Linked DNA regions of Homo sapiens: regions 1, 2 and 4 are each linked to region 3. The links come from fine-mapping of genetic effects on gene expression. A gene starts in region 3. Each other region holds a variant in brackets. All regions are shown on one strand. Distances are between the middles of the regions. Region 1 overlaps ATP11A (ATPase phospholipid transporting 11A). Region 2 holds the start of LOC124903252 (a long non-coding RNA gene). Region 3 holds the start of ATP11A (ATPase phospholipid transporting 11A). Region 4 overlaps ATP11A (ATPase phospholipid transporting 11A).

What was found. PIP is the estimated chance that this variant, and not a neighbour inherited with it, causes the effect.
Region 1: its variant is fine-mapped to the expression of ATP11A in whole blood (TOPMed, PIP above 0.99). The same link has a PIP of 0.9 or more in blood mononuclear cells.
Region 2: its variant is fine-mapped to the expression of ATP11A in whole blood (TOPMed, PIP above 0.99).
Region 4: its variant is fine-mapped to the expression of ATP11A in whole blood (INTERVAL, PIP above 0.99).

What each region holds. Positions count from the first base shown.
Region 1 is chr13:112,868,502-112,873,644 of GRCh38, reverse strand. It overlaps ATP11A (ATPase phospholipid transporting 11A), which reads right to left. Exons shown (of 30, transcript NM_015205.3): 26 at 1,845-1,910; 27 at 1-72. Among named protein-coding and RNA genes, the nearest start is that of MCF2L-AS1, 98 kb to the left of the region's middle. RefSeq lists enhancers at 304-353, 1-474, 475-976, 116-1,315. The variant T/C (reference allele first, on the strand shown) is at 2,007.
Region 2 is chr13:112,782,027-112,787,169 of GRCh38, reverse strand. ATP11A (ATPase phospholipid transporting 11A) reads right to left here. Exons shown (of 30, transcript NM_015205.3): 2 at 1,913-2,035. It overlaps LOC124903252 (a long non-coding RNA gene), which reads right to left and starts at 1,906. Exons shown (of 2, transcript XR_007063947.1): 1 at 1,257-1,906; 2 at 1-887. The variant T/C (reference allele first, on the strand shown) is at 2,773.
Region 3 is chr13:112,687,171-112,692,313 of GRCh38, reverse strand. ATP11A (ATPase phospholipid transporting 11A) reads right to left here and starts at 2,276. Exons shown (of 30, transcript NM_015205.3): 1 at 1,859-2,276. The coding sequence starts at 1,897. LOC102725228 (a long non-coding RNA gene) reads left to right here and starts at 2,499. Exons shown (of 2, transcript NR_187633.1): 1 at 2,499-2,651; 2 at 3,445-5,143. RefSeq lists enhancers at 122-623, 2,922-3,439 and silencers at 1,484-1,723, 1,744-2,673.
Region 4 is chr13:112,715,632-112,720,774 of GRCh38, reverse strand. All of the region lies in intron 1 of ATP11A (ATPase phospholipid transporting 11A), which reads right to left. Among named protein-coding and RNA genes, the nearest start is that of ATP11A, 28 kb to the right of the region's middle. RefSeq lists an enhancer at 127-1,326. The variant G/AAG (reference allele first, on the strand shown) is at 2,104.

The sequences.
Region 1 (5,143 bases), 180 kb before region 3:
AACGTAGAACAGCAGCGACCCCCAGATGACAAAATGGTTGATCCAAGTCCAGTAGTGTGTGTCCAATGCAAGCTAAAAGGAAAAAAAAAAGGGCAGTTAACGGTGTCATCTGAGCAGTGAGAATGATCGTGATGGGCAGGACAGAGAGCCGGGGGGTGACGAGAAACTAAACCAAACGCAAGACCCAGCAATGACGACTCAATGCCTGCAAAACACGGCTCAGGAAGACAAAGCCACACCTCACACCGCTCAGGAAGACAAAGCCACACCTCACACCGCTCAGGAAGACAAAGCCACACCTCACACCGCTCAGGAAGACAAAGCCACACCTCACACTGTTCAGGAAGACAAAGCCACACCTCACACCGCTCAGGAAGACAAAGCCACACCTCACACCATTAAGGAGACAAAGCCACACCTCACACCACTCAGGAAGACAAAGCCACACCTCACACCGCTCAGGAAGACAAAGCCACACCTCACACCACTCAGGAAGACAAAGCCACACCTCACACCGTTCAGGAAGACAAAGCCACACCTCACACCATTAAGGAGACAAAGCCACACCTCACACCACTCAGGAAGACAAAGCCACACCTCACACCGCTCCAGAAGACAAAGCCACACCTCACACCGCTCAGGAAGACAAAGCCACACCTCACACCGCTCAGGAAGACAAAGCCACACCTCACACCGCTCAGGAAGACAAAGCCACACCTCACACCGCTCAGGAAGACAAAGCCACACCTCACACCGTTCGGGAGACAAAGCCACAGCTCACACTGCTCAGGAAGACAAAGCCACACCTCACACTGCTCAGGAAGACAAAGCCACACCTCACAGTGTGAGTGGAGAGGAAGAATGTGGGGACGCCACAGCCCTGGGTCCTAGGTAAGGGAGCCATGGATGTATTTCCCAGATGGCAGCATGCGGGCCACAGACCAAGGTGTTGTTTATATCGTCACCGAAGAAAGTCATTCAGATTAAGGTGTTCTTTATGTCTCTACTGAAGAAAGTTACTTCTTAAAATTTTTTTGAGACAGTCTCGCTCTGTCGCCCAGGCTGGAGTGCAGTGGTGCGATCTTGGCTCACTGCAACCTCCACCTCCCGGGTTCAAGCGATTCTCGTGCCTCAGCCTCCCAAGTAGCTGGGATTACAGGCGCGTGCCACCATGCCCGGCTACTTTTTGTGTTTTTAGTAAAGATGGGGTTTTGCCATGTTGGCCAGGCTGGTCTCGAACTGCTGACCTCAGGTGATCCATCCACCTTGGCCTCCCAAAGTGTTGGAACTACAGGTGTGAGCCACTATGCCTGGCCAGAAAGTTACTTTAGAGTCAGGTGTTGTTTACATCACTATCTAAGAAAATCACCTTAGGAATGTTTTGGTATCACTTTTTAAGACTCAGTCTGATAGGTTTTGAGATTTCATAATGATATATTCTGTATATAATTTCACTGAACTTTAAAGAGTGAAATTTTTCAAAATACATTAATTTGTTTCAATTAAAGTGTATTTTGATGGCGCTGGGGGGAGGGCTACTTGCCACTGAAAACAATTCTAGCCTGAATTCTTTCACAAAGAAGCAGCTTGCTCCCGAGGTTACCTCCGGTGTAGCTCTGGGGTTTGCACATGGGGTGGCCGGGTGTGCTGAGTGGCTGTGCATTACTTGTCTAAACAGCAGGACAAGGATGCCCAGGGGTGCCCCAGGAGCCAGCCAAGGCTGGGTGGAGAGTGGCTTCCAGCCTCAGTACAGAGTTATAATTCAGAGAGCTCAGAGCGCGTGAGGCCTACACTGCAGGGGTTCACTGTGGCTGGGGGAGGAACGTGAGCGCGAGACCACTTACCTTTAGTGTAACTGTGAACACCATCACGGTGAATACCAGCGTTCCAAACGTCCAGTTTCCAAATATCTGTTTGGGGAAAATAGTCCAAGTCATCTCGTTTTTATGTATTTTTTTTTCTCTTTCACAATCAAGAGTTTTAGAAAATACACCTCATTTTTCTTG[T/C]GTGCCAACACTTCAAACCCCAAAGATATAAGCACTATATTTTCTTATTATCCCGTAAAAGAAGATGCAGCAACTCCCCAGAGCACGGCAGGACGCCCCCATTTCCCGGCTGCATCTCCCACCACCAGTTCTGTGGCTTGGTGATGGGCTCAGAGCCTGCCTATCTGCAACTTGCTGCCCGCTCCTGACGCTGGCCCTGCTCAATGCTCTCAGCCACAACAGACGTCCCAAGGTCTCAAACTGAGCACAAAAACTCCCTCACAGCTGGCATTTAAATATCCATAATGCAAACTCGGGTACACGCAAACCTCCTTTTTCTGTTTTGTGTTTTACGTAGAAAAGACAGTTGCCTGAGTACCCAGCTACATTCCACGGGTTTCAGGAACAAACTCACAGACTGTGTCTGTTCCCTTCTGAACTCAGCTCAGACTCCTGCCTGCTGTTGAAGAACAGCGGCGGGAACGTTCTGCGAGTAAATGCAGAGGAAACACCCCAGGCACCCATGCAGAGGGGGAAGCCTGGGGGCTTCCCTCGGGGAACCTCCCTCAGGACAGAGAAGACAAGCCGGCAGACAGGACAGGGCTGGACAGAGGCTGCCCCGCGTGCGGCCAGAACCACAGATCCGCCAGCAGTGGTGCCCAGGTGGCCGTGGAGGAGGGAAGGTCAGTGGGACCCACGAGCTGCCAGCTGGCAACGCAGCACAGACACAGACACACCCGTGAGGACCGCGTGCCCGACCCGTGAGGACAGCACGCCTCTCTACCGCACGAGGCACAGGCCAGAAAGGGCTGCTGCCCAGACCACCCCCCGCCTTGGGGAAAACCCCCGACTGGAAACTTGTTTCGGGAGAACCTGCTTTCCTTTGGGACGCTCCTGCGCTGTGGCCCAGACGATTTCTAGTTTATCGGATTCCATGAACTGCACCTCGCAGGGAATTTTATTTTATAAAGAATTAAAAAGCGGGCCGGGTGTGGTGGCTCATGCCTGTAATCCCAGCGCTTTGGGAGGCCGAGGTGGGCGGATCATGAGGTCAAGAGTTTGAGACCAGCCTGGCCAACATGGTGAAACCCCGTCTCTACTAAGAATACAAACATTAGCCGGGCGTAGCGGCGCCTGCCTGTAATCTCAGCCACTAGGGAGGCTGAGGCAGGAGAATTGCTTGAGCCCGGGAGGCGGAGGTTGCAGTGAGCAGAGATCACGCCACTACACTCCAACGTGGGCGACAGAGCACAGACTCTGTCTCTTAAAAAGCTGGAATACAAATGGCTGTTCTTCAGAATTCAGTTTCAACCAAAACAACACACCCATCACCATACCCCTTGATTTAGCTGAGGGAGGGTGTGGGCTACAGTCCTCCCACATGGTCAGTGGGATAACAGGATAACATCTCATTTGTAGATTATAGAAAAAAGTGTTAGGACCTTTTGTAGTGAACACCGCTTCTTAGGGGCCCCCATCAACACATCCTTCAGTTTTTCCCTCACTTCCTCATTGTGATCAGAAGTGGGCCTCCTCCTTCTGGCTTGGAAATGCCTGGCCTACAGTGTCACTCAGATCTACACATGCTTGTGGTTCTCGGCTGGGGCAGCCTTGCCCCCAGGGACACCTGGCCGTGGTGGAGACATTTCTGGGGCGTGGGGTCTGCTAGCTTTGGATGGGGGGGTGGAGGGGCTGCTGAGTGCACACGACAGTGGCCCACGAGGATGTACATCTGGCCCCAATGTCAGCAGAGCCCGGGTGAGAAGCCTGTTTCACACTCACCAAAAAGTGCCGTCTCTTTGTGGCTTAACTTCTGGGGCAGGAAAATATCATGCCTCTAGGAACAGCTGTGGCTTGGCAGCAGCCTACAAGCACATGTGGCCAGCAAGGTGCTGGAGGGCGGGAGGCTGCTGTGCTGTAACTGGAAGCTGATGCTTTCAGCCAAGTGGTGCCTCCACAGCAGCTGAGGGCGGCTTTGCACCCAGACAACCACATCAGCTGGGCCTGGAGGAAAAGCCCCTGACGCTGCCCAGCTCTCCTCTTCCTCCCCCAGGCCTCACCTTGGCCATCCCAACACAGAACTCTGAAAGAGTTAGATGGCAGCAAGACATGAACTCAAGGGTGCCCTGTGAAGCAGTGTGTGTCACCAACAGCGCCACAGGTGATAACTGCAGTCAACTCACACGGCCTCCTCACTGTCCCCTCTCCCTGCTGTGAGCCGAGAAACTGCCTTTCTAAGCTCCCAGCTGGGGCTCCCTGGGTTTAGGGGGTAATGGCAGAACTGGGATAAGGAGTTAGGCCTCAGGATGCCTGGTCCTGCAGAGCACATGGGCCACAGCTGTAAGCTTTATAGGTGAGGAACAAAGCACAGCTATCGTGAATCCAGAATCAGGCACCTTGGTCAGGGCCCCTGAGAAACGCTGACCCATTACTAACCTGTGTCCACGTCCTTTGGAAGCTAGTCCACTGTGGAGCTATCCTGAAACGCATCTCTGGAAAGCCCTCTTATTCCCTTGGTGGCCTGAAGTGGGGCCCCCAGGTGAACTGCCATGATGTGGTTTGGCTTTGTGTCCTCACCCAAATCTCATCTCAAATTATAATCCCCGTGTGTTGGAGGGAGAGCCTGGTGGGAGGTGACTGAATCATGGACGTCCTCCTTGCAGATCTCGTTGACGGTGGGCGAGTGAGTTCTCATGAGATCTGGTTGTTTCAAAGTGTGTAGCATTTTCCCCTTTGCTCTCTCTCTCCTGCAGCCTTGTAAAGAAGGGCCTTGCTTCCCCTTTGCCTTCCGCCATGATTGTAAGTTTCCTGAGGCCTCCCCAGCGATGCTTCCTATGCAGCCTGCAGAACTGTGGCTCGATTAAACCTCTTTTCTTCCTAAATCACCCTGTCTCAGGTAGCTCTTCAGAGCCATGTGAAAATGGACTAACATGTGCGGATAGTTTATTACTACAATTGCTGGTCGTTATTTCCATCAGATTCTGGGGGTGGCAGGCATCCCTGGGATACCAATCTCCTTTTTCAAAGGGCTTTTCACAGGGACCCTTTTCTTCCAAGTGACATCAACGCCATCCCCAGTGAAGCTCCTGTTTCTGATTTCTGTGGAACCCTGTCCTCATGTGACAGGCACATCTCAGCCAAGAACCTGACCAGTGCGA
Region 2 (5,143 bases), 95 kb before region 3:
GCATCAGGACACCCGGTGTGAATTAAGTAGGTCTCCACAGGGGTCTACACGTCAGGACACCGGTGTGAATTAAGTAGGTCTCCACAGGGGTCTACGCATCAGGACACCCGGTGTGAATTAAGTAGGTATCCACAGGGGTCTACGCATCAGGACACCCGGTGTGGATTAAGTAGGTCTCCACAGGGGTCTACGCATCAGGACACCCGGTGTGAATTAAGTAGGTCTCCACAGGGGTCTACACGTCAGGACACCGGTGTGAATTAAGTAGGTCTATCGCAGGGGTCTACACATCAGGACACTTGGTGTGAATTAAGTAGGTCTCCACAGAAGTTTACACGGCAGGACACCCAATGTAAATTAAATGCGTCTACAGGTGAGGGCACACGTGTGAATGGTGGGCCGCCACAGGCATCCCCATGTGCAGCCCGTCCACGCGTGTGCGTGGGTTTAGCTCATCCATTTTGAAGGACGGTGAAGATAAATGGAGTCTGAATGCAGGCACGTGCGTTCCGCATTACCTGGAAAGCACAGTTTACCCCATGTGCAGCCCGTCCACGCGTGTGCCTGGGTTTAGCTCATCCATTTTGAAGGACGGTGAAGATAAACGGAGTCTGAATGCAGGCACGTGCGTTCCGCATTACCTGGAAAGCACAGTTTACCCCATGTGCAGCCCGTCCACGCGTGTGCCTGGGTTTAGCTCATCCATTTTGAAGGACGGTGAAGATAAACGGAGTCTGAACGCAGGCACGTGCGTTCCGCATTACCTGGAAAGCACAGTTTACCCCATGTGCAGCCCGTCCACGCGTGTGCGTGGGTTTAGCTCATCCATTTTGAAGGACGGTGAAGATAAACGGAGTCTGAACGCAGGCACGTGCGTTCCGCATTACCTGGAAAGCACAGTTTACCCCATGTGCAGCCCGTCCACGCGTGTGCGTGGGTTTAGCTCATCCATTTTGAAGGACGGTGAAGATAAATGGAGTATGAATGCAGGCACGTGTGTTCCGCATTACCTGGAAAGCACAGTTTACCCCATGTGCAGCCCGTCCACGCGTGTGCGTGGGTTTAGCTCATCCATTTTGAAGGACGGTGAGGATAAATGGAGTCTGAACGCAGGCACGTGCGTTCCGCATTACCTGGAAAGCACAGTTTACCCCATGTGCAGCCCGTCCACGCGTGTGCGTGGGTTTAGCTCATCCATTTTGAAGGACGGTGAAGATAAATGGAGTCTGAACGCAGGCACGTGCGTTCCGCATTACCTGGAAAGCACAGTTTACCCCATGTTTAATGGCAGCAGCTAAATTTCCACCTTGTTCTTAAGACCTGTTTCCAGGTCACTCTCTGAACGTGGGAAATGTGTGTGCACTTCCACGCTCTAGTCCATGGAGAGAAACACGCTTCGTTTAGACCGCGGCACTCTGCTTGTGCTTCCTACGCTTTACCTGGGCTGCACCTCGTGAACAAGCTCAAAGATTTCCCCCCAGGTTTTGCTGTCCAGCCTGCGTTTGTTGGCTCTTTCTCCGGGGTGGCTGGTATCGTTTCTACCTTACTGGCACTGAGACTCTGGCCAGGGTGGCCCACGACAAGCACGTGGCCAGGCGCCTCAGAAGTGGGACCTGGGTAGGGTTTGGATCCTGGACTTCAGACCTGCACTGCCTCTGTGGCACGGTCACCCGAGAATGGAGACACTGCGCTGTGAGCCCTGGGCAGGTGGAAAGCCTCCTGTGGGCAGTCACCGAGAGGGAGAGAGTAGCGCCCTCGGTGAGGTCCTGATCCGAAGCCCTTGCTGGGGGTGGCTGGTGGCTGTGACAGCAGGGCCAGGAGCAGAGCCGCTCTTTGAAACCGAGAAGCACTAACACCCCCCGGCAGCTGCTTTTTAGACACATTATGGACACTCAGACCCAAGCCAAGTTACCTTGGACGAGACGATCCTGTTGTCTGGGTATCTCTGTGGGATGTAGGCCTCTGCGCCCGGAGGTGGCTCCCTGTGTCCCACGTAGATGGTCCTGCTGTCCACCCAATTCTCTTCTCCTGCACACTGCGGAAAGGAGAGCGGTGTTAGGCAGCTGCCTCAGAACCTGCATCAAAAGCTCTTGCCCAGAGTGTTGCCTTGAGGCACGTTCGTCGGAACGGAGACCTGTACCTGCTGCTGAGAGCATCGTTCAGGGCTGCAGGGAGACCTGGGGCCCAGCACCCCAGGCCCGAGCCACCCTGTCTTACGCAGCCCTCATGGGCCAAGGTCTTCTGGTGAGCACCAGGAGGGTCTGCGCTCCTGTGAGAGCCACACAGTGAACTTCAAAGCTGACTGCCAGTGGAAACAGCTCAGGGCGTGTACATAAGAACAGAACGCGGCCGGGCGCGGCGGCTCACGCCTGTAATCCCAGCACTTTGGGAGGCCGAGATGGGCGGATCACGAGGTCAGGAGATGGAGACCATCCTGGCTAACACGGTGAAACCCCGTCTCTACTAAAAAATACAAAAAATTAGCCGGGTGTGGTGGTGGGCGCCTGTAGTCCCAGCTACTCAGGAGGCTGAGGCAGGAGAATGGCGTGAACCCGGGAGGTGGAGCTTGCAGTGACCGAGATAGCACCACTGCACTCCAGCCTGGGGGACAGAGCGAGACTCTGTCTCAAAAAAAAAAAAAAAGAACAGAACGTGTGGCCAAATCGTAAGGCTTCCAAAACAGAAGAGACAGTGATGTTGGGAAAGGTCTTTAATGGAAGAGGAAAGAAAAACTATGATACTGGGGTAGAAGGCGGGACTTGACTCCAGAGG[T/C]GGGGCTTGGACACCGGACCAGATTGAGGACTGGTGAAAACAGGGCTGGGGCAGAGGCAGCTTTCCATAAGACATGCCCGCGGTGTGAATATCAGTTTACCATTGCCATGGCAACAGCCAGGAGCTGCGGCCCCTTTCCATGGCAATGACCCGATCGCCTACAAGTTACATCCTTCTCCTAGAAATTTCTGCATAAACCACCCCTTAATCTGCATGCAATTAAATCTGCCCTGAGCTACTCCTCTCCGCCTAACAGGGCAGCCCCGCTCTGCAGGGGCAGTCAGGGAGCTGTAGCCTCTTCAATGAAGCTGTTTCTTCCGCCTCCTGCTTGCCCTTGAATTCCTTCCTGGGCAAAGCCAAGAGCTCTCCAGGCTCTTGCCCCACTGTGGGGTCACCGGCCCTGCATCTGCAGATGGGTAAGAGTCGCTCAACCCTGCTAGGTGTCTGCTCAGGAACAGGAAGGCTCTCCTGCAAAGCTGACTTGGGCCTGACCATCTCTGTATTACTCGGAACACTGTATTTGGAGGAGTTAAGGAAACAGCTCTGACAAGAAATATTTCAACAACACTCAGGCGGGCCATTTGATGTCAGCACTAAAACCACAAAAATACTTTAGCTCGTAACGGGAAATCCAAACGCCACATCTGAATACGCAGCCCTGGCCATGGCCCTGAGCCCACCTCGGAATACGGGGCCTTAGCGTGTGGCTCTCGTCCCACGCCCCAGTTCTCTGTAGGAACTGCAAGACATCAGCCTTTCTGGGGCATGAGAAACACAGCTGAAGAGGAGACGGAAGCCTCCTCCATGAGGGGAATGCTGGTGCAGTGGGACGGGAAGGACGAGCGGGCACTGCCGTCGAAGGGCTGACCCTTGGCTGCTGGGCCACTCCTCGCCGCAGGCACGGGGACAGTTTCCCGCTGAGCTTCTCACCCATGAGGGGGACACCAGCACTTTCTCAGGGTCCTGGAGCATGAAATGAGGCAACGGGAACAGAACAAGGCCAGGGGCCCGGCCCAGCACAGACACTTGTAAATGCTCAGGGCCAAGTCCTCTCTGTGTGGGCTGCCCCTCGGTGCTTCAGGGAACTCTCGTTTTTTAAAGCCAAAAAAGGCAGGCAGGGTCTGAACAGTCTGGAGTCCCTGTCTGCGTGGTGCTCTTGTTTATAAACCTCATGGGGCTGTTTTTGGACTTGATGTCATCAGCTCCTCTGCTCCCCTACCAACCTCTCAGAGGAAGTCTTTCCACACTGTCCCACCCAGAACGTCCCGGACAGGAGCTGTGTGAATGTCTGCACATTTGCTTTAATAAATTCCATCGGTAATTCACCTGCAATTTCTTTTATTAGGACTCAGCTTTGCAGAAAAGTCTAAGTAAAATAACGGAAAGAGACCACAGCAGTCTCCATGTGCCCCAACTGTGTTTTCAGAGATGTTTGGCTGAGACTATCAACCAGTGTTTCCACGGGGAGCCGAGGCTTCCATGCTCCTGGGGACAGACGTACAAGGCAGCCACCAGGCCAGGGAGGAACACTCCACCCTCAAATGAGCCAGACGCAGTTTTCCTCAGCGCGACCTTGGGTCGTGGCCTCCCCGCGAGCCTGCTGGCCATGCAGTAACCGTCATCCTGGACTCAAAGCCAGGTGGGCAGCACAGCCCCACTGCCCTGACCATGCCACAGCCTGGCTGCCCCTCCCCACGAGGACGGGCCCTCCTCCTCCGGGACTGGGTCTCCCTGCCTGACGGGGGCCTTCCCTGCTGTCTCTATTTTGTGGTGAAGCCAACAAACCACAGGGATGTGGACTTTAAAAGCATCCTAAGAGCTTCATAAATAAACTGCTGCCTATAAAGGCTAAGCAAAGTCCCTGGCTCCTTTGTTTTCACAGAACATAGCCAAATAGATGCTTCTCATTCTCGTGAAATCAGGAAATTGCACTGAATAAGAATATAAGTGAACCAGAAAAAGAGAGAAAAGCATACAGATATCTTTTAATACAAAAGTGAAAATCCTAGAAACTTTCTTCGAAGCTTCAAAGACGGCAACTGAATTTCAGGAGTGGCCACGAGCCCAGACACTGGTTTGGAAAGCTGAACGCTTCCCTGGAGCCGTGTGGCATTGCCCATGCCACAGCGAGCCCACGCTTCCCGGCCGCTTCCAGCCAGCAACAAAGGGACCCTGTCTCATGGAGGAACGATCAGGATGAATGGATGAAGCCCACTCCAAAGTCTCAACACCGGCGAGCAGACGTTTATCATTAAATAATTACATCAAAAACAACTCAGATACAGCCCAACAGTGTAGCGGCGTTTAACCCGACACAAGTAGGAATGAGTATTCTTGTCTGTGCCATGGCTTCAGAAAACAGGCTGCCTGC
Region 3 (5,143 bases):
AGCCCCACAACGTGACCCTCCTTTTTAACACTGAGTGTTAGAAGGGAACGGAATGAACTGGGAACACCGCGGGCAAAGTGAGTGTTAGTCCCTTCCCTCTTCCATTTCGCTCGAAGGAAACAAAGCAGGAAAATAAGGTGTCTAGGGACCCACACTTCTGAGCGACACAACTGAGAACAGAAGCTTCCGCCCAATAAAGCATTTCTCTTACACTGCAGGTTACCTATAGTCACTGTGATTGGGTCTTCTATAACGTTACCACAGTGAAACACAGGTTTACCACTCACATTAGGATTTGAACTGGGGGCTCGAGCACCAGTGAGGGAGTAACACAAGGCTCCTGGAGCCAAGCCTTTCAAGATCTAGCATCGGAATCATCAGAATCACCAGGGGTGAGTTCTCTCCACTTAAGTAAGTCAGGCTGACCTTCCTAAGGCTTCCCCGAGATCAGGAAACGATGTAAGGTGCACTCAAGTCTCCTTGACTCTCCGAGGTTTTTGGTTAATAAATAAATCCGGGGGAAAGCATTGATCTGGCATCCCCCACTGAAAAGAAACCTATCTATCTTTGGCCAAGGTCTCCTATTTAAAGAAGGCTCATAAATATGAAAGGCTGCCTGAGGTAATTCCTATGCCGGGAAAGAACAAAGTTCCCATAATACTGCCCTCTCTAGTATCAAACCCGGTGCATGCGACTTCTCGAACCTGTGATTGACCAGTGACCGCCAGCCTCTATGGAACAATGAAGCCTCTTGTGCAAGACAGTGGCAGGAAACGCTGTGCTTGGGACAGTTTTCTTCCTCTCCTACACACACACACACACACACACACCCTTTTTTTTTTTTTTTTTTGATACAGAGTCTCGCTCTGTCACCCAGGTTGGAGTGCAGTGGCTCGATCTCGGCTCATTGCAACCACCGCCTCCCGGGTTCAAGCGATTCTCCTGCCTCAGCCTCCTGAGTAGCTGGGATCCCAGGCGCCTACCACCACGCCCGGCTAATTTTCGTATTTTTTAGCAGAGACGGGGTTTCACCATGTCGGTCCGGCTGGTCTCAAACTCCTGACCTCGTGATCCGCCCGCCTCGGCCTCCAAAAGTGCTGGGATTACAGGCGTGAGCCACCGCGCCCGGCCACACACCCCTTTTTACACCTAACGCCAGGGATTCCGGTTTCCCCTCCTCTGGTGTAAAACAAAATCAACTTTTCCCCTTCCGAGTCTTCCCTCCTGAGCTCTTCACTTGCTTATCACTGAAGGGGCAAATTCCAGAGGAACCCAAGAAGACCCCGGACTTCTGATCTAATTGGTTACTTTAAGGTAAAAAATAAAAAGATTCCAAACTCCGCTTCTGAATCCCCCAGGGGTGTTAAAGAACAAACACAATTGCTACCTTTTTCTGCAGAAGTGTAACGCTTCCTCCCAATCCCTTAATCTTACAGACACGGCTGCGCGGAAGCCGCATCTGAAGGTTCCTCCCCAGACCCGGGCCCCGGCGGGGTCGAAGTTGGCTCCCTCCGGGCGCCCGGTCCGCCGGGACAGCTCGAACCCCAGCCAGCCTCTCCGAGGGACCCCCAGGGCGCTGCGGGCGGGAAGGGGGCGCCAGGCGGCCGCGGCCAGGGAGCAGGTGGCCGCCCGGGGCTGGGGCCCCGCGCTGTGCCCACCTAGACCCCGTCGGAAGCCCCAGGGTGTCAACTCCGAGGCCCCTCCCCAGCATCCCGCTCGTCCCCGGGGGCGGTCCGAGTCCCAGACATCGGAGACCTCCCGGGACCCCGGGGCTGGACCGGCCACAGGGTCCGGGCTGCGGGGCCGGCCCGCGTCTGTCTGGTCCCCGGGTCCCCCAGCCCGCGCCGGGAGCACTCACGTATCTGTGCACGAGCGTCCGCACGAGGCTGCAGTCCATGGCTCCTCCGGCCGCTCCCGCTCCGCCGTTCAGCGCCCCCGCGCCCGGCTCGGCGCGCCCATGGGCTCCGGGGTACTAGTGCGGCCGCGCCCCCCGCTCCGGTCACGGCCTCGGCGCGCCGGGCGGTGCAGGGGGCGGCCGCGGCCCCTCCGCGCTCATGCCCGGCCCGGCCGGCGAATGCTGGGTCCGCGGCCCCGCGCGTCGGCAGCTGCTCCACTGGCGGCAAGGCTGCTGCTCGGGGCCGCGCGCGCGCGCTCTGGCGCCTTCTCTCTCCCCGTCGGTCCGCCCGCTCGGTTGGGCTCGGCTGGAGCACCCCGGCCGCGGCGGAGCCTGCGCTCTGCTCCTCCCGAGTCTCCTCCTCCCCTGCCCGCCGCCCTCTGGAGCCTCCGGGCCCCGCTGGCTCCTGCCCCTGCTCCGGGCGCGCACGTCACCGGCGCAAGTGAGCATGCGCCCCGCGGCCGCAGCCCCCGCCGGCCCCGCGCCCACACCCGCGCTCGCACCCGCGCGCCGGCCCTGCCCCCTCGCGCCTCCGCCCGGGCCCCAGACCCTGGGGGCAGAGGGCAGAGGGCAGAGGTCAGAGGCCGCGGGGAGGAACCCCCCTGTTGCTTCCGCCTCCCGGGGCGCAGGCGCTGGGCGCGGCGGGGAAGGGACTCGGCACTGGGGAAACCCGGAGTTTCAGCCAGGGTCCCAGGGCTTCCTTCCCGGGTTCCTGCCGGAAAACTTTTCTCCTCCGCCCGGAAGCCTCGATGGGGCAGTGAGATCGCGGGGCGAGGTGGGAGTGTGGGAGGGGGCCGCGGGCAGAGAGCGGGAGTCCGGCTGGGTGGGAGATCTCCTGAGCCGAAGCTGGGTCTCGCCCCAGCGTGGCGCCACCGACCCGCAGGCTTTTCCTGCTCTGCAGATGGAGAGACACAGGGACGCTCCTCAGGTGGCTGCCCTGGGCTGCCAGCCTGTCAGTGGGAGGGGAGGGTGCAGACAAGAGGCCCCTGTTTCCGAAACCCCTCTGTCCCCAAAGCTGCGACAGCAGAAGACACTTAGGCGGCCTGAGGGGTTGGTGAACCACAGAGGAGCTCAGCTTCGCCTGGTCTCCAGCTCCCGGTGGCGGTGGCGTGTCCTTAATGCTGCTGGCTTTGAACTGGACTGAGAACTATTTACCACACAAACACCACCATTTCAATCCCGGAGAATGCCTGTTTTCCCTAGGGTGACCTGGCCGGGGTAACAAACACTTGTTCTCTAATTCCACGGTCAGCCTTGACTTAATTGAGGTACTTGATTTCCAACTTCCTGTCTTGCTGCCACAGATAATCACTGATGAAACCAAACAGGCAACACCTTTTGGTGGCCTGTGGAGAGCGCTGCCCCGTCTGGGTCTTAGGAAGGCAATTGAATATGAATGTTCTCCCGAGTGCTTGTGGAAAAGAGATGGTGTTGGCCACTTTTTAGACGAAGAGAAATGAGTACTAGTGAACACTAATCATAGTGACTAAACAGTAAACGGCTCCCATTTGTTGTCGGCTAAAGCACTGATTCTTCATTTTCCATCCCAGCCTGTCCTGCTCTGGCCTGCCCTGTGCTCAGGAAGCTGGCGGTCCCCCTCAGTGGATCTTCACCCACAGGGACAACCTGCTGCAGACCGGGTAGGAGGGAGGCAGGGGCCTCTTCCCCTCTCCTTCCTGGCCTGGCCCCACACCCACCAGTGTTGGTTTCACTCTGTGGCTACGATTCTTCCTGGGTGCCCTTTCCATTGCACAACTCCTCTAGGCTCTACGAACAGAACTTCTCCCCGCCCCCAAGCCTCTTAGGGTGAGACATGTTGTCGGTCTGCCATTGTTGCTGGTCCCTAAATAGCAGCACCCTTTGAAGGATCCTTGAACCATGACCACACCGCAACAAAGAGTCCTTCATCAAACTCGCTTCCAAATCCCCTCCCAAGAACACCTTCAGTTTCCTGCAAGAACCCTGACTGCTGAAGCCGGATTTTGACTAAGCTTCTACCTTGTAAACCGTGACTGTGGGATTGGGGTCGAGGCGCAATCAGAGGTTGTATAAGGCACTAGATCAAGGCTGCCTGTCTGTCAGGAGTGTCTGCTTTATTCAGTAGTAAATGTGAATTGTTTTTCATTCTGTTGTGAATACTGTTGGTTGACAATGCAGCAGCCATGCCCTCTCTATCCTTGCTGGTTCAGGTATCCACTCTGTGTGGCTAAGGGTAAACTCTGTCTCTTGAGAAAATCTTGGTAACTCCATTTCTCTTTCCAACAATTGGCTTCAAACAAGCTCAAGTCAATGAGTCCCAACAGGAAGCCTGCTGGGGGTTGTCTGGCAAAGGTTTTCTCACTCCTACAGGAACATAAAGAGGAAATGCTCCTTTTTCCCTGGTGAATGTTGCATTCCCTGTCTGGATGCAATGCCTGGTGCTCCGCAGCCCTTTGCACTTATAAGAGAAGGTGGCCGGAAGAGCATCTTCACCCTGGGGTGGCCGCCTGGGAAGATGAGAAGAGCAGGAGTCCTTGGTGGCACAACCAGGCAATTCACCAAAATCCTGCTGCCCTCACCTGGAATTTCCTGCTATGAGAGACGTCTCCGTTTAAACCACATGAGCTGGATTTTCTGTTTCTAACACATGTCAGCATCTTCACGGTAAATCTAAGAAAAAAAAATCAGGGCTATTAAAAAACAAAGTCCAACTCACCCTGTGCTATGGTCTGAAGGTGTCCTCCCAAATTCACACGTGGAAACCTAATCCCAAATACCTGATACCTAATCCCAAATATTAAGAGGTGGGGGCCTTGGGAGGTGGTTAGGAATGGGATTAGTGCCCTTTAAAACTGAGGTTTTTGGGAGCCTGCTTGCCCTTTCTGCCATATGAAGATGCTTAGAAGAGGCCTTCTATGAAGCAGAGAACTTTTCTCAGATGCCAGATCTGCTGGGACCTTGATCTTGGATTTCTCAGCCTTCAGAACTGTGGGAAGCAAACTTCTGTGTGTATGAATAGCCATCTAAAGGATTTTGTTACAGCAGCCTGAGCAGACTAAGACACCCTGTGAGTCAGTTATTTTTGGCTGTGTCACGAGTGACCGCGAGTGCAGGAGCTGAAACGGCAGTGAGTGGGTTACCATTTCTCAGGACCCTGCGGAATTGGTGCGATGGTGCTTCTGCTCCACCTGTTGTTGGCTGGGATTGTCCTGCAGCTGCATTCTTCTGGGGGTCAGCTGGGGCTGGAAGCTTCCTGTGGTCTAGTCACAC
Region 4 (5,143 bases), 28 kb before region 3:
ACCAGCCTGGCCAACACGGTGAAACCCCATCTCTACAAAAAATACAAAAATTAGCCGGGCGTGGTGGTGCACACCTGTAGTCCCAGCTACTCAGGAGGCTGAGGCAGGAGAATCGCTTGAACCTAGGAGGCAGAGGTTGCAGTGAGCTGAGATCATGCCACTGTACTCCAGCCTGGCGACAGAGCGAGACTCCGTCTCAAAAAAATTAAAAAAAAAACAAACAGACTCTACCCAGAGGCTTCATCTGCGTGATAAAGCCCCGGTCTCCACAACCTCTTTGCCTCAACCCAGGCTCACGGGACCCGCGGCCACAGCAGACGAAGGTGAACGCACCCCACAGGTAACCCTGACCCTGCGCGTCGGGCGTGGGTTTCCTCATCTAAACACTCCCTTCCACTGGCTCCAGGCTTTCAACAAAGCTTTACTGCTTTAACCAATCGCACACTGAAGAATCTCCGACTCCACCTATGGCCTGTGACACCCGTTTCAAGAAATCCCACCTTTCTGGGCTAAACCAATGTATACCTTCCATGTACCGATTTGTGGCTTTGCCTGTGAGTCCTGTCTCCCTAAAATATACAAACCCAAACTGTGATCTGACTGCCTCAGGTGCACCTTCTCAGACTCTGTTTCCCCAGCCCACAGTCACTTAGACAGGCTCAGAATAAACCTCTTTAAAATAGTTTACAGACTTTGGTCTTTCCATTAACAGAATGGTCATTAATGTATTTGATCAATCCCTTATCCACAGACTTGAGATGTTTTCATTGCTACAACAGATACTGCTGCAAAGAACATTCTGATATGATTGTGGGCACTTGGGATATGACTTTCTTAGGCTGAATTTCCAGAAATGAAATGGAAATACTTTTTTTTAAATTATGGGAGACTGTTGTTTTGGACTGAGCTCCAGCACTAGGCCCCAACAGACCAGACCAAACAGGAATGGAGTTGCTCCTGCTCAATGCCACGTCACCAAAATGGAACTTTAAAGAAGTGACAGGTCCCAAAACAGACCGGTTTTTCTCAAAAATAGGAGATTCTGTTGACCTGAGTCAGCAAGTGACAAAGTCCCCTCTGCTTTACCCTCTACAAAGAAGTAACCTGAAGTAACCTGAAGTAACCTGAAGTTCACCATCAGCTTCTTATTCTGTTTCCTTGCTTCCACCTTACAAAACTGACTGTTCTGCCATTGCCCAGTGGGAGCTCTCATTATGTAGAACGGACGCTGCCCCGTTAAGGAATTGTAATTAAAATCCAATCAGATCTATAACTAAATGTTTTGTAATTTTGTCTTCTGACAGTTGGAATCAAGGATACATTATTTTGATTCGGCAAATGGGATTATTCCCACAGCCTACAAGTTAATTAATCTTACATTTTAAAAGTGTTTCAAAACAAAGTCATGAACAGAAGATTGAAGATTACGTGAGAATATAACAAAGGCATGCAAGGCATTGAGTCTTTTTATATTGACTTGCTTTTGTGTTGCCTCTGGTGCAGTTTGCATACCTGAAACACACCATCATAATTTCCTGCCTGCGCGTCACAGGGCATCCTGAGGGCCCCTGACTATTCACCAAGACGGTCTTTGACGCGATTCAAAGTCACACCTGCGCGTCACAGGGCATCCTGAGGGCCCCTCCAACTGTTCACCAAGATGGCATTTGACGCAATTCAAAGTCACACACACACAGTTCAAATAAGCCGGACTTTCAGCATCTTCTCTTCTTCTGTTAAAGCCATCGTTGAAATCCTAACCCTCCCTCAATCCCTACGTCCTATTTCAAAAGCAGGCCAGGTGCAGTGGCTCACGCCTGTAATCCCGGCACTTTGGGAGGGCAAGGCGGGTGGATAGCCGGAGGTCAGACGTTCGAGACCAGCCTGGCCAACATGGTAAAACCCCATCTCTACTAAAAATACAAAAGAAAAAAAAATTAGCTGGGAGTGTTGGCGTGCAACTGTAATCCCAGCTACTCAGGAAGCTGAGGCAAGAGAATCCCTTGAACCTGGGAGGCGGAGGTTGCAGTGAGCCAAGATCGTGCTATTGCCCTCCAGCCTGGGTGACAAGAATGAAACTCAGTCTCAAAAAAAAAAAAAAAA[G/AAG]TGCAGCCTGCAAGCCCACCCTGGTCCGACTGCTAATCCAAACCCAGGGATCCAGGACCCAGTGACAATCTCTCGAGGGCAGTTAGAAGAACCTAAGTGGCAAGTAGCTGGGTGCTGCCTCTGCGGGTTCCCATCCCCACCGCACACACCTCGGAGGGAGGACCCCCAGCGGAGGCGGCTGCCCTCTGGGGGTATTTCACATGAAACTTGCGGCAGGCGGCACAGTTGTCTTCTTGCTTAGGCTGTGTTTGGAACAGACAGAAGAGTTGTAAATTTAACTGGAAACACTTGGCTTTGGCTGGCTAACAAATAAAATTTCATGAGCACAAACAAAAAGCAGAGTTGAACATTGTCACCTGAAAAGAAATTTAAAATTGTTAAAGCGTCAAAAAAATCCAGGTGCTTTTAATATCTATATTGTTTTTATGCTTTTTATCCAATGGTAAAAGCAATGAGTGTTCTTTACGGAAAAGCAAAATAAATTCAAGCAAAAAGACTATCACACAGCAAAGGGGGAGAGACAACTCCTGTTCACGCCTTGGCGGGGTGGGGGGCAGGGGGCGGTGGCAATCATTTATTTATTTATTAATTTTTTGAGATGGAGTTTCCCTCTTGTCACTCAGGCTGCAGTGCAGTGGTGCAATCTTGGCTCACTGCAACCTCTGCCTCCTGGGTTCAAGTGATTCTCCTGACTCGGCTCCCGAGTAGCTGGGATTACAGGCATGCACCACCACGCTCAGCTAATTTTTGTATTTTTAGTAGAGATGGGGTTTCACCATGTTGGTCAGGCTGGTCTCAAACTCCTGACCTCAGGTGATCCACCCACCTCGGTCTCCCAAAGTGCTGGGGTTACAGGCGTGAGCCGCCGTGCCTGGCCACGTGGCAATCATTTCTAATGCACAGATGTGTGTTTGAAACTTTTTCGGAATGGCATCACACAACATGTACTGTTTTCTCACCTACGACCATAACTTAATCAATTCAGTATCATCATATGTTTAGACAGTTTATCAGGTTTGCCTGATTTACAAGCAGTGCAGAGAACTGAAAAATGAATTAGCAAATAAAATGAAAATCTATAAACTTGACAGTAGTGTTTGTAATGTACAATGTGAAGGTTGTACATTCAGACCAGAAGCATCAAAATCATAAACATGTACCACAAGAGTACCCGGGGATGTTTATTTTCAACCAAATCATGTTCAGTTGTTAAAAGGGTGCTTTCTAAAAATGTGTTTTCAAAAGAATCCCACACGCCCTCTTGAACAACCCTCTCAGCTTGGAGGTAATGGAGCTCAGTCAAGGAGGCAGAGAGCTGCTGCTTCTCCTGGGATGGCGGGGGGGCATGTTCTGAAATAAGAGTAGAAAAACAAGTTGGATGTGATTAGGAGAAAAAGTATTATGCTAACCTGGGCCACTCCTGCACCTACTTTCCAGCAGCCTTTTATTACAAATAAATGAGACCATATTTGCATTTTAAATTTTGTCCCGATTGTTCCGTTCTTTACACTTGAACAAGTGCCGTCCTCAAGGCGGAAGCGTGTCTGCTCTCCTCCTGGCTTCTCTTTCTCTTCCTGGTCAAGGTCACAACAGAAGCCTCCCCCTCATTTCAGAACATACTCGTGTCCCCCACTCATCACCAGGGCCAACAACAGCCTCTATGGGCCCTGCAGGCCAGTGGGTCTGCGTCTGTGGGTGGACACCACAAGCCTCTGCCCGTCCCAGGGAAAGTGCACGGGCCTCCAGCTCCCGGATGTCCACCTGATCCAGTACTGCCCCATCATTTCACCTTTATTTTGCACATAGCCATCTTTAGAACGCAGAAATTGAGGGAGGCTGGGAGGCCAGCAGCCTCCCCGACCTACCCACACCCCACCTGGGCCCTGCAGGAGCTGCCACTGCCCCACTCACGCAGAGCCCCCAAGTCCAGGATGGGCCCCGTCACTGGCTGAGACCTGGGGAGGAACCTGCTCTCACACCCTCTCCAGCGGCCCGGCCCCATCGACGTGCCCAAGACATGGGTGAGAGTCAGGACCTGGCTCAGTGCAAACCCAGCCCCGAGCCAGGCTCTGGCCCTGCATGAAGACCGGCACAGTGGAAGGTGGGGAACGCCCCAGTCCCAGGAGGCCTCCTTGCCCCCTCTGTCCCGGCTCCCGTCCTCCCAGAGGCGGAGGGGATGCCTACCAGGAGACTAGAGGTGGTGGCCCCCACAGGCCCCCAGAGCCACCACAGACCACTGGGTTGGTGGTTCCTTCTGAGTGTCTGGGCCACGTGAAGTGAAAAACTAGGAAGTGAATCTGGGGAGACGCCAGGCCACACGCACCTAGGTGGGCATTCCCACGGGTTCCCACAGCTGTCGGAGCAGAGCTCACCAGGAGGGGCAGAGAGAGATGCGACTTGCTAAAGCCCCCACTTCCCACCAGATGGGGAATGCCTGGGGCCTAGGGACTTGGCCCCACCACGGTGGATGCTTCTCATGGGAGCTCTGGCAAAAGGTCTATCACAGGGTGCTGTGGCTCCCAGCATCTGCAGAAGGCCAGAGGACCAGGCTCAGAAGACGGAGCAGCCACCGGGAACTCCACTGAGAATGAGCTCCAAGCCTCTCCAATTCTCAAAGTCCAGGCAGGAGCCACCCCCAGGCCCCCACAGAGCCAGCCTGCCCAGAGCTGCTGGGGAGAGAAAGCAAAGCAAAACCCAATTCCACACCCAGCCACTACCATCCCTCAGAGAGCCCTTAGTGGGAGAAGGGGAAAGGAATGGGATCGGATTTCTAAGGAGAAGGTGCCCTCAAGGCCATACACTCTGTCTCTCTGGCAAACACCTTCCCCGGCCCCCAGAGGTGTGAGCAACAGGGCTCCAAGCCCAAGCCACTTGGGAATGATCACAGAGCAACACAGAAACAGGTGCGAATTCGTCCTGCAAAATAGCACAACTGCTGAAAAGGCACAGGTTAGGGTTGTCTTTGGAAGAAGATTAATCTGTAAAGAATTCCCAGAGAAAGTAAGATTTTAATCAACTGTAAATACAGAGGGGCAACCCT